3 linked regions of the Homo sapiens genome follow. The protein of the gene in region 3 purifies or fractionates together with the protein of the main gene of each other region. This does not show direct contact. Each region holds a gene or a part of one and is shown on either strand. Other genes may lie near its edges.

Evidence for each region.
Region 1: the proteins of EN1 (region 3) and THUMPD3 purify together in Homo sapiens (affinity purification with mass spectrometry; one large-scale study listed by BioGRID and IntAct). This does not show direct contact.
Region 2: the proteins of EN1 (region 3) and ANKHD1-EIF4EBP3 purify together in Homo sapiens (affinity purification with mass spectrometry, with the first as the bait; one large-scale study listed by BioGRID). This does not show direct contact.

What each region holds. Positions count from the first base shown.
Region 1 is NC_000003.12:9,369,512-9,373,161, forward strand, and holds part of THUMPD3 (tRNA (guanine(6)-N(2))-methyltransferase THUMP3), read left to right. Parts: intron 1-1,548; coding exon 1,549-2,025; intron 2,026-3,650. UniProt on the Homo sapiens protein: Catalytic subunit of the THUMPD3-TRM112 methyltransferase complex, that specifically mediates the S-adenosyl-L-methionine-dependent N(2)-methylation of guanosine nucleotide at position 6 (m2G6) in tRNAs.
Region 2 is NC_000005.10:140,404,717-140,408,366, forward strand, and holds part of ANKHD1-EIF4EBP3 (ANKHD1-EIF4EBP3 protein), read left to right. Parts: intron 1-3,650. UniProt on the Homo sapiens protein: May play a role as a scaffolding protein that may be associated with the abnormal phenotype of leukemia cells. Isoform 2 may possess an antiapoptotic effect and protect cells during normal cell survival through its regulation of caspases.
Region 3 is NC_000002.12:118,845,511-118,849,260, forward strand, and holds the start of EN1 (homeobox protein engrailed-1), read right to left. Parts: upstream 2,139-3,750; 5' UTR 1,658-2,138; coding exon 796-1,657; intron 1-795. UniProt on the Homo sapiens protein: Required for proper formation of the apical ectodermal ridge and correct dorsal-ventral patterning in the limb.

The sequences.
Region 1 (3,650 bases), on a different chromosome or scaffold from region 3:
TACCTGTGTGGCATCATGTTGGCACTTCAAAAAAATTTTAGGTTTTGGATTTTGGACTTTGAGATTAGGAATGTTCAACCTATATGTTGGAGATCCTGGCAGTATCATTGCTGGAATTGGCTGCGTATACTCCATTGTTTGGCTGTATAATAATTTAACCAGTCCCATTTTAGGGCATGAGGGTTTTTCACATTCTTTTGCTATTACAGTGGTGCAACAAATACACTATGTAAATTCTTGTACATATTCAAACTGAGTGTCATCTTTGTGTTTATCCCATTGATACTTATTGATAATGACAACTGTTTAGTCTTAGTTTTGTCATGCTCATACTTTTTGTTTTTTCTTAATTTGAAAAATCTTTACATTATGTCTTTACTTTTTTCATATGCCTGTGTTTTCTAATAGTTTGGAAGGTTTATGTGTGTGTGTTCTAGCTGTTACCTTTATAACTACAATTTGATATTATCTACCTTATCTACCATATATACACGGTATTTTTTGAATCCCTGCTAAAAGCAATGATGAAATTGGCATATTTATACTTTTTTCCTTTATTTTTCAGTTATTTTTCTTAGTGTTCACCCTTAAACTTTTAAATATACTTACATTTTATTTATCAGCTTTAACTTCTATCCTTTGACCTCTGGGTGTAAGAGATGAGGGTATCAGTATGCCCATTTACATGCCAGTTTGTAACATTTACCTTCTGCTTTATAATCACAATCCCTACACTTGTTTTCATTTTAGTGATATAATTAAATAGATTATAGGCACATTATTTGTCCTTTTGTTATAATTTGTATCTGTTGAATGGCATGAGTTCAGAAATGTTTGTCTTTCACCTTTATATTTGGCTGATAGTTTGGGTATAAAATTTGGAGTTAGGCTTTCTTTCCTTAAGAATATTGTAGTCAGTGTTCATTCTCTTTTGTAAAAGATTTATTTTTTTAGACAAGATCTTGCTCTGTTGTCTAAGCTGGAGTGCATTGGCGTGATCATAGCTCATTGGAGCCTTGACCTCCCAGGCTCAAGCAGTCCTCCCATCTCAGCTTCCTGAGTAGCTGGGACTACAGGCACGTGCCACCATGCCCAGTTAATTTTTGTATTTTTTTGTGGAGACAGAGTTTTGCCATGTTGCCCAGTCTGGTCTCAAACTCCTAAGTTCAAGTGATCCACTTGCTTCAGCTTCCTAAAGTGCTGGGATTACAGGCATGAGCCACCATATCCAGCCCAGACTTTTTTTCTTGTCATTATTTCCCAAACAATACAGTATAACAACTATTTCCATAGCATTTACATTGTATCAGGTATCATAGGTAAGATAGAGATGATTTAAGTTACTCTTGAGAGGATGTGTGTAGGTCATATGTAGACACTATACCATTTTATATGAGGGACTTTTGAGCATCTTTGGGTTTTGGTGTCTTTGGCGGTCCTGGAACCAGTGTCCCCCACGGATACCAACTGTCCATAAGCAAAGTAGAGGTTTATTTGTTTGATTATAGTGGTGAGAAATGAATGAATTTCTTTCTCTGTCCTTTACAGGAAGAAGTTCTAAAGGATTTTGAAGACTTGGCTGGAAAACTCCCATGGTCAAACCCCTTAAAAGTGTGGAAAATTAATGCCAGTTTTAAAAAGAAAAAAGCAAAGCGCAAAAAGATAAATCAGAATTCAAGTAAAGAGAAGATTAATAATGGACAAGAAGTCAAAATCGATCAGAGAAATGTTAAAAAAGAGTTCACTAGCCATGCTTTAGATTCTCATATCTTAGATTATTATGAAAATCCAGCCATCAAAGAGGATGTATCAACATTAATAGGTGATGATTTGGCATCTTGCAAAGATGAGACTGATGAAAGCTCAAAAGAAGAAACTGAGCCTCAAGTGCTGAAGTTTAGAGTCACATGCAACAGGGCAGGAGAGAAACATTGCTTTACCTCAAATGAGGCTGCAAGAGATTTTGGGGGTGCTGTTCAAGATTATTTTAAGTGGAAGGCCGACATGACCAACTTTGATGTGGAGGTAGGTATAGGCTCTGACTGTGGTGATTGAAGAATGCTGTCACAGATTTGTAGAATTTCCAGACTAACCCAATGTTATGCACAATTAAACTGAGGAAATAGTAGGGTGTGGTTAAGAAGAGCATAGGCTATGGAGACAGATTTAGATCCAAATTTTAACTCCACAACTGTATAACTTTGGACTAGATAGTCTCTGAGCCTCTGTTTCAAATGGAGCCAATAATATTATGTACCTTTAAGGTTATCCTGAAGGATAAATGAGGTACATTTAAAATATTTGGTGCAATACCTTGCATACACTAAGTGCTCCATAGATGGAAGCCATCAAGGTTGAGTTGTCTGTTTTCTTTTTCTTTTTCGAGACAGAGTCTTGCTCTGTCACCCAGGCTAGAGTGCAGTGGTACGATCTCAGCTCACTGCAGCCTCCACCTTCCTGGTTCAAGTGATTCTTGTGCTCAGCCTCCCAAGTAGCTGGGGCTACAGGCACATGCCACCACACCTGGCTAATTTTTGTATTTTTTAATAGACATGGGGTTTCACCCTGTTGGCCAGGCTGGTCTCAAACTCCTGTAGTGATCTGCCTGTCTTGGCCTCCCAAAGTGCTGGGATTATAGCTGCACCTGGCCTGATTTCTAATAGACTACTCTTTTACTATATTATATGGACTTTCATATTATAAAATTCAACCAGAATTAAAATAGTTATTTTGTTTTTGTGTGTCTTGGTTGCAGAGCTTTGCTACTGAAAAAATAAAATAAGGCTGGGCGCAGTGGCTCACGCCTGTAATCCCAGCACTTTGGGAGGGAGGCCGAGGCAGGTGGATCACTTGAGGTCAGGAATTTGAGACCAGCGTGGCCAATATGGTGAAACCCTGTCTCTACTAAAAATACAAAAATTGGCCCGTCATGATGGCACACTCCTGTGGTCCCAGCTACTGGGGAGGCTGAGGCAGGAGAATCACTTGAACCAGGGAGGTGGAGGTTGCAGTGAGCCAAGATCATGCCACTGCACTTCAGCGTGGGTGACAGAGCAAGACTCCATCTCCAAAAAAAAAAAAAGTGCATTTTTTAAACAAACCCTGACCTTCTCAAACCAGGACATCATTGCTAATACTCATCCTAGAGTCAGCTCTCCTCTTTCTTAAATTCTGCTAGATTTCCAAAGCCAGGTACCTCATTTTAGTATATTTACTTTCCTTGGTCTTAATCCTCTTTTATCTGGGTGATTGACATGTGAACCATAGGAACTAAAGTATTTAAGTCTCTGACACCTTAAAACATCTCTAGCAGCTGATATATTTACCAAAGAGTCAATTTCCGTTGCTTTTGGGACACTTGAATCTGGGGCAAGTCACTGATTCTAACTTTTTTGTGCATGTCAAATCAGGAGTCTAATTCCCCATTCCTTTTTTTCCTCATACACTGCCTTGCAAATGAATACGTGGCTCACACCTGTAATTCCAGTACTTTGGGAGGCCTTGGCAGGCAGATCGCTTGAGCCCAAGAATTTGAGACCAGCCTGGGCAAAATAGTGAGACCCTGTCTCCACTAAAAATAAAATAAATATTTTAAAAAATAAAATGAATAGGTTAACCAGAACAGTGATGTCTAAAAGTTAGCAAGGTGA
Region 2 (3,650 bases), on a different chromosome or scaffold from region 3:
GCCCGGCCTTAATTTTTTTTTTTTTTTTGAGACAGGTTTTGCTATGTTGTCCAGGCTAGCCTCAAACTCCTGGGCTCGGGTGGTCCTCCTACCTCAGCCTCCTAAGTAGCTGGGACTATAGGCACACGCTACTGTGCCTGGCAACCATTTGCTTTTTTATAAGTAATAGTCTTAAATTTCTTCACAGGTAGAGCACTAGTTTGCCCCCAAAGTCATAAATTTGTCTCTCTCTCTTTCTGACTGTGCATGTCTGTGTGTGTGTGTGTGTGTGTGTGTGTGTGTGTGTGTGTGTGTGTGTATGTGTAATGGTCTTTGGAGTCTCCATACCATGTAATTAAAGCTATGGGCAGAATCCATGCCTTTTGTATTTTTGAAGCTTATTGTAGAAGTCATGTGTTGGTGATTCCTACACCCACTTAGTGGTGCCTAATGTTAGAAGAGCCCCATATTCTCCTGTTTACTTATGTTTTCTGTGCCTAAAAGGATTTACAGGTTAAGAGTACATGTAGACCTCATTTTTGGAATGGAAGTTTCTAGGATACCCACTTTAGCCTAATCTAAGATGATGCTTAGTGGGTGTATAGATGCTTTCTTAATCTGTGTAAGCAGGAAATTTTTTTTGGGTCCTGTTTCTCCCATATCACATAGAGAGGAAATTCTTGGAGTATCTAGTCTTTATAGTATGTGTGGTAGAGTATAGTCTGTGCCTTTGTGAATAAAATGACCTGTTTTGGCCAAGCAAAAATTTTCCCTTTTCTTTTTCTGTCTGACAAGATGAGCTGTCTTCTTTTATTATTATTGCCTTTGAATTTTCAGTGTGAAAAGGTAACAGTGTTCTTCAAAAAATACTCATGTAATTGGCATTTGATGAATAATACTAAAATCCTCCGTCTCATCTTTCCTAAATATTTTGTTTATTTTTATTTATTTTTTTGAGACAGGGTCTCATTCTGTCACCCAGGCTGGAGTGCAGTGGCACGATCTTGGCTCACTGCAACCTCCGCCTCCTGGGTTCAAGCGATTCTTCTGTCTCACCCTCCTGAGTAGCTGGGATTACAGATATCCACCACCACTCCCAGGTAATTTTTATATTTTTGGTAGAGACAGCGTTTTGTCACGTTGGCCAGGCTGGTCTCAAACTTCTGGCCTCAAGTGATTCTCCCACCTTGGTCTCCCAAAGTGTTGGGATTACAGGTGTGAGCCACCATGCCTGGCCTTCATTTTTCCTAAATATTTATAACCACCGGGCATGGTGGCTCACGCCTGTAATCACAGCACTTTGGGAGGCCAAGGCGGGTGGATCAGCTGAGGTCAGGAGTTAGAGACCAGCCTGGCCAACATGGCAAAATTCTGTCTCTATTAAAACAAAAAATTAGCCGGGCTTGGTGGAGGGCGCCTGTAATCTGAGTTACTCAGGAGGCTGAGGGAGGAGAATCGCTTGAACCCAGGAGGCAGAGGTTGCAGTGAGCCGAGATCACGCCACTGCCCTCCAGGCAGGGTGACAGAGAGAGACTCTGTCTCAAAAAAAAAAAAAAATAAATTATTTTAGAAACAAGTACCTAGACATCCAAAAAGATGATGAATTGGTGTGTAGTTTGGGAGTGAAGTTTGTCTTGTTGCTCTAATGGGGCAGGATTAGGTGAGAAATAAGAAATGTGGAGCCCTAGTATTTTTGCTCTAGAATTAGTTGGTCTTCTACATTTTGTGTACAGAGGAGTAGACCCTCTAAGGACCTCTTTATATTTAATATCAGAGCCAAGAGCTGAGAAAAAACAAGCTACTCTTTCTTGCTGGCCAAGCAAAAGACCTTTTGGTTAGAGGAATGGACTCACATCTTTCAGTACATTTTTTTTTTTTTTTTGAGATGGAGTCTTGTCGCCCAGGCTGGCACGATCTTAGCTCACTGCAACCTCTGCTTCCTGCATTCAAGTGATTCTCCTGCCTCAGTAGTGAGATTACAAGTGCGTGCCACCATGCCTGGCTAATTTTTCTATCTTTAGCAGAAATGGGGGTTTCACCATATTGGCCAGGCTGGTCTCGAACTCCTGACCTCAGGTGATCTGCTCGCCTAGGTCTCCCAAAGTGCTGGGATTACAGCCGTGAGTCACCCACCTGGCCCTTTTGTTATTTTAAACATTGGGGTAAATACCTGCTTCGTATTTCTTCAGGCATTCTTAGCATGTTTCTTAGCTATCGAAGCCCTTGATTAGAAGAGCTAGCACTGCATTGAATCCTATTAAGAAATGTATCCATGTTCAGAATAGAAGTTAGGTTAAAAATTTCTTAAAAACCACTTTAGGCCTGGTGCGGTGGCTAACGCCTGTAATCCCAGCACTTTGGGAGGCCGAGGTGGGTGGGTCACAAGATCAGGAGTTTGAGACCAGCCAGACCAACATGGTGAAACCCCATCTCTACTAAAAAACAAAAATTAGGTGGGCGTGGTGGCACGCACCTGCAATCTCAGCCTACTCAGGAGGCTGAGGCAGGAGAATTGCTTGAACCTGGGAGGCAGAAGTCGCAGTGAGCTGAGATCGCGTCACTGCACTCCAGCCTGGGTGACAGAGTGAGACTCCATCTCCAAAAAAAAAAAAAAAACCACTTTAAAAAATGGTTTTTATTTTAAATTTTTATTTATTTATTTTGAGATTAGGATTACAGGTGTGAGCCACCACACCCAGCCTATTTTTATTTATTTATTTATTTTTAGAGATGGGCTTTTGCTCTGTCACCCAGGCTGGAATGCAGTGGCATGATCATAGTTCACTGCAACCTCGAATTCCTGGGCTCAAGCAATCCTACTGCCTCAGCCTCCCAAAGAGCTAGGTCTAACTAGAGGTGTACTCCACCACTCCACCTGATTTAAAAAAAAAAAAATGTTGCCCAGGCTAGTCTTGAACTCCTGGCCTCAAGGGATCCTTCTGCCTGGGCCTCCAAAAATGCAGAGATTACAAGTTGTAAGCCACTGTGCCTGACCGAAAAACCAATTTTTAAATTTTAATTTTAGAATTGTGGTCTTTTAATTTTTTTAGCAAATCGAAATAAAAATACAGTTTCTAAAGAAAAGATTGTGTGAGACATGGTTTTCAATTTTTGTCGTAAGAATGAATGTGTGTGTATATGTGTGTTTGTGTGTGTATGTGTGTGTGTGACGGCCCTCTTTTAAAATTATTACAAAAGTGGCCGGGCGCGGTGGCTCACGCCTGTAATCCCACCACTTTGGGAGGCCAAAGCGGATGGATCATCTGAGGTCAGGAGTTTGAGACCAGCCTGGCCAACATGGTGAAAGCCTGTCTCTACTAAAAATACAAAAATTAGCTGGGTATGGTGGCAGGCGCCTGTAATCCTAGCCACTTGGGAGGCTGAGGCAGGAGAATCTCTTGAACCCGGGAGACGGAGGCTGCAGTCAGCCAAGATCATACCAGTGCACTCCAGTCTGGGTAACAGAGCAAGACTCCATCTCAAAAAATTAGAAAATAATAAAATTATTACAAAATAGTTACTTGTTGAAAAACTCAACAATATAGATAGTAGGTATAAGGGGAAAAGTAAAAGTGCTTCTTCCCACCCCCATTAATTCTTCAAATTCTACCCTTCAAGGTAACCAATATTAAAATTTTTCATTCAGTAAATTTTCTAGGCCTATCTTTCTA
Region 3 (3,750 bases):
AAGCGCCGCGCGGGGAGGATGCGGGAACCGTTCCGCGGAGAAGCTACGGAGGAAACTGGCTCTCATGCCCTTGGACACGCTTCCTGGCCTGAGCCTGACCTGTTTTCTCTCCTCTCCCACTGTTTTTCAGCTCCAGAAAACCAGGGGCTGCCAGCACCCACCTTTTTGGCAACTGCCTTTCCCTGGTTTCTACCCACCCGGGTCAGACTCTTTTCGCTACCCAGCCGGGGGAGAGGGACGGCTTTCAGACGCTTTCCTCCCTGTCTTCCTGTGTTTCCCATGTTTATCAATGTAAACGGTCTCTCCGCAGAAAATATCGAGATGGTGTTTGTGTCTGTAAGGACACACAGTGAATATAATTTTTCTGAACAAGGCCTTCTCTGGTCAAATCTGGCCTTCGGACGATCAGGCTGGTGGGATTTCAGACACACATCACTAGGCCCACCTTCCTGCCTTATCTAAACACCCTGGAAAGAAAATCACTGACTATGTACTTTTCCTAAGAATAATAAAGATAAGAGACAAAGAAGGCCCCAGGGATTCAGAGTTCAAAATCAAAGAATCGAGACCCGAGCCTCCTGTGCCACGAGCTGTAGCTTCTCGGGTGGTGGCCGCAGAGGCCAGGATCGCATAGCTGGATGAACATTCGGTTGTGACTGGAACTGGGGTGAGGAAGCAGGCGTGAGAGACTGGAGTACCCGAGGCCGGGTTTGCTCTCCCTAGCGCCGCAGCTTGGCGTTCTGGGGCGGTCCGCGGGGCCAGAAGGCATGGCGCAGCCCGGAGTTGGGTACTCACCGGAGGATGGACGATCCGAATAACGTGTGCAGTACACCCAGGCGGGCCATACGAGAGGCTGCTGCGAGTCAGTTTTGACCACGGGCCCGCCGTTGGCTGAGCCCATAAGTAGGATAGCCGGGTTGCCGTGCTCCGGGTATTTGGTGCCCTGCGCTCCGGGGCTCCCCGCGCCGCCTCCACTGCCGCCGCCACCGGTGTCCGAGGGCTTGGCTGCTGCGGCCGCCGCCGCCGCCGCCACTGCCGCCGCGGCCGCCGCCGCCGCCGCAGCCGGGTTCCCAGCTTTAGACGCGCCCGCGCCGGCGGCGGCTGGCTGGGAGCCGTCGGGTGGGCCACAGTTCGCGTCCGGGGCGCACAGGAGCGAGGCAGCGCCTGGCGCCCGGGTGCCCAACGGGTGGACAGGGTCTCTACCTGCGGCAGTCTGGCCTCTGTCACGCTCGACCCGGCCTCCTCCTCCTGCGCCTCCTCTGGCCGCCGCAGCCACCAGAAGCTGCGGTGGCGGCTGCTCCTTTTTGCAGCCGAAGTCCGGCCTCAGGATGTTGTCGATGAAAAAGTTGGTGGTGCGGTGCAGCTGGGCCGCTGGCTGCGGCTGGTGAGCAGGCGCCGCGAGATGCTGAGGCGGCGGGGGCGGGGGGTGTGGGGGGAGGTGCGGGTGGTGGGCCAGGGGCGGCAGGCAAGGCGCCGCGGGCGGCGAGGGGGGCGCAGGCTGCGGGGACACCGGCACGCTGTCTCCATCGCTGCCGCTGCCGCTGCTGCCGCTGGCGCCCGGACTGAGGCTCAGGCTGAGGCCGCCCGGAGTCGCCGCCGCCGCCGCGCCGAGGGCCGAGTCGCGCTGACTTTTAGGTTCCGGCTGCTGTTCTTCCATGCTCGGCCGCCCCGCCGCCCCGGCCGCCGCGCCGGCCCCCGCCCCCACCGCCTCGCTCCCCACCCCACTTTGCCAGCGGCCCGTGGGGGTGCGCGGAGGAAGGAGGCAGGCGAAGCCTCAGCGAAGGCACGGGGCGGGTGCAGGAAAAAAGCTCAGGCGTCTGGCCTGGATCGCTCGTTCTTATCTAGCAGATAGATCTCGCTGTCTCTCCCTCTCTAATTTGTAGACATCCAGATATGGAGACACTTGGCTATTTCTTTTTTCTTTCTGCAACCAGATTCAATGATTTGATTTAAATGGGGAGTAAGCCACGGCCAAAAAAATGAAGGAAAAAAAGAAAAAGAAAAGGAAAAAGAAAGCAAGAAAAAAAGCTCCAATAATTTTTTTCTTAAAGGGAAAAAAATAGTATTTAAAGTCTAGCCATCTTCCTAGGCAGTAGTGAGGGGTTTGACTTCCCCGAGTGTCACGCTCAGCTGTGCCCAGAGCGTGAGGCTGGCAGCGCCTTTAATCGCCTTTGCTTTTTTTGCAGGGAGAGCGCGTCTCCGCCAGCGCCGGGCTGTTTTTTTTTTTTTTTTTTTTTTTTTTTTTTTCAAATCTCTGACAGCTCGGATCTTTGCACAAACTCTCTCGCTTAAAAAAAAAATCACCCAGGCACACTTTTTGCCTTCAAACCGGAAGCACGTGAGTCAGGGCCGCACGTGTGCGGAGCCAATGGCGAGCCGGGACTCGCGCTGACACTCGGGCCTCGGCCCAATGGGCGCGCGCGGGACTTTGCGGATAAATAATCCGGGGGCGTCAACCGCTGGCGGAGAGGGGGCGCCTCGGCGCTGGCCCTGTGCGTCGGGTCCGCCCTCCCCCACCCGCGCCCGCACCCGCGTCCCTCCCCCTCCTTCAGGCCGGGACTCAGGAGGGGGCAGAAGAAACCCGGGAGGGGTGAATTTTGGGATGTAGGCAAATGGAGAAGCAACTCCATAAACAACTTGTTAGAGAAATGCAGGATTATGGGTCTGTGAGCTACGGGAGCAGGGGCAGTAGGCAGGAGCCTGGCTGTTTTGCACCCCCACGCCTAAGAAACTCAGCTTTTTATTTTCTCCTCTGTCTCTGGTTGCTGTTATTGAAGGATGGGTGGTTGTTGTCACTGCCGGTTTGTGTGTTTGTGGGTGGGTGTGGGTTTGGGTGTGTGTAGTGGAGGGAGGGGGAGTGAGACAGGGAGGTCGGTGATGTGAAATAGACCTAGAGTTGGTTACTTTCAGAGGCGCAATTTGTTTTTCACAAATAGCAAAATCTGAAAGGCCCGCTGCGCCTAGCTAGCGTCGCACGTTTACGTTTGTACGTCTCCTGCCGGCCCGCTGCATTGCTTTCCCTTTGTGGGGAATCCGCACCCATGCCCTTCCCGGTCCAGACTTTCGACAACACCCTGGAGCTGCCCTGGCGCCATAGAGCCAAGCCCAGAGGGCTAGGAATAGCCCCAGAGCCAGTTGCCTGGACCTTCCCTGGCAGTGGGAGTCCGGGCAACGCAGATTAATCTCAGGAGGGCCCCGGGGCCGGCGAGTCAGAACGCGGATGCGCGCTAGGCCCTAGCTTTTAGAGTTCAGGGTAACCTCTGTGTTAGATTTCCCTGCAAAGTAAAATCAAATAAATGAAAGCGCTGCACCCCAAGTATTTGCCCTGGCTAGCTGAAGTTGTGAACAGGGAGTTTCCCTCAATTGCCGGGTGACTGAATTTCCTGGGATTGCTCCCAACTCCCTGGGTGCCTCCGGCTCCAGCTCTGTGCGTTCTTCCCTAGTTTGAGGGAAATGCCGTTCCTCCAGCTGCTATCATTCTCCCGTCTGCCGATCTCTTTTTCGCTATTTCCTGGTCGAGGCACCCCCAAAATTTTCTCATAACCGGGAATGTGAGGGACGGGGGTGGCGTGTGGACTGAAGCTCTAGGCACCTGCGGGACTTGTCTCCGGATTCGTTTTGGAGGACCAGTATCCGACTATGCTGAAGCCTGCGGTGGCCGAGAAAGGCGTCAGCAAACGAGGCCTTCGGGGGTGTCATCTTAGAGCTCCAGCGGACCTCCTCGCCCTGAACGCCCTCCGCAACTGGGAC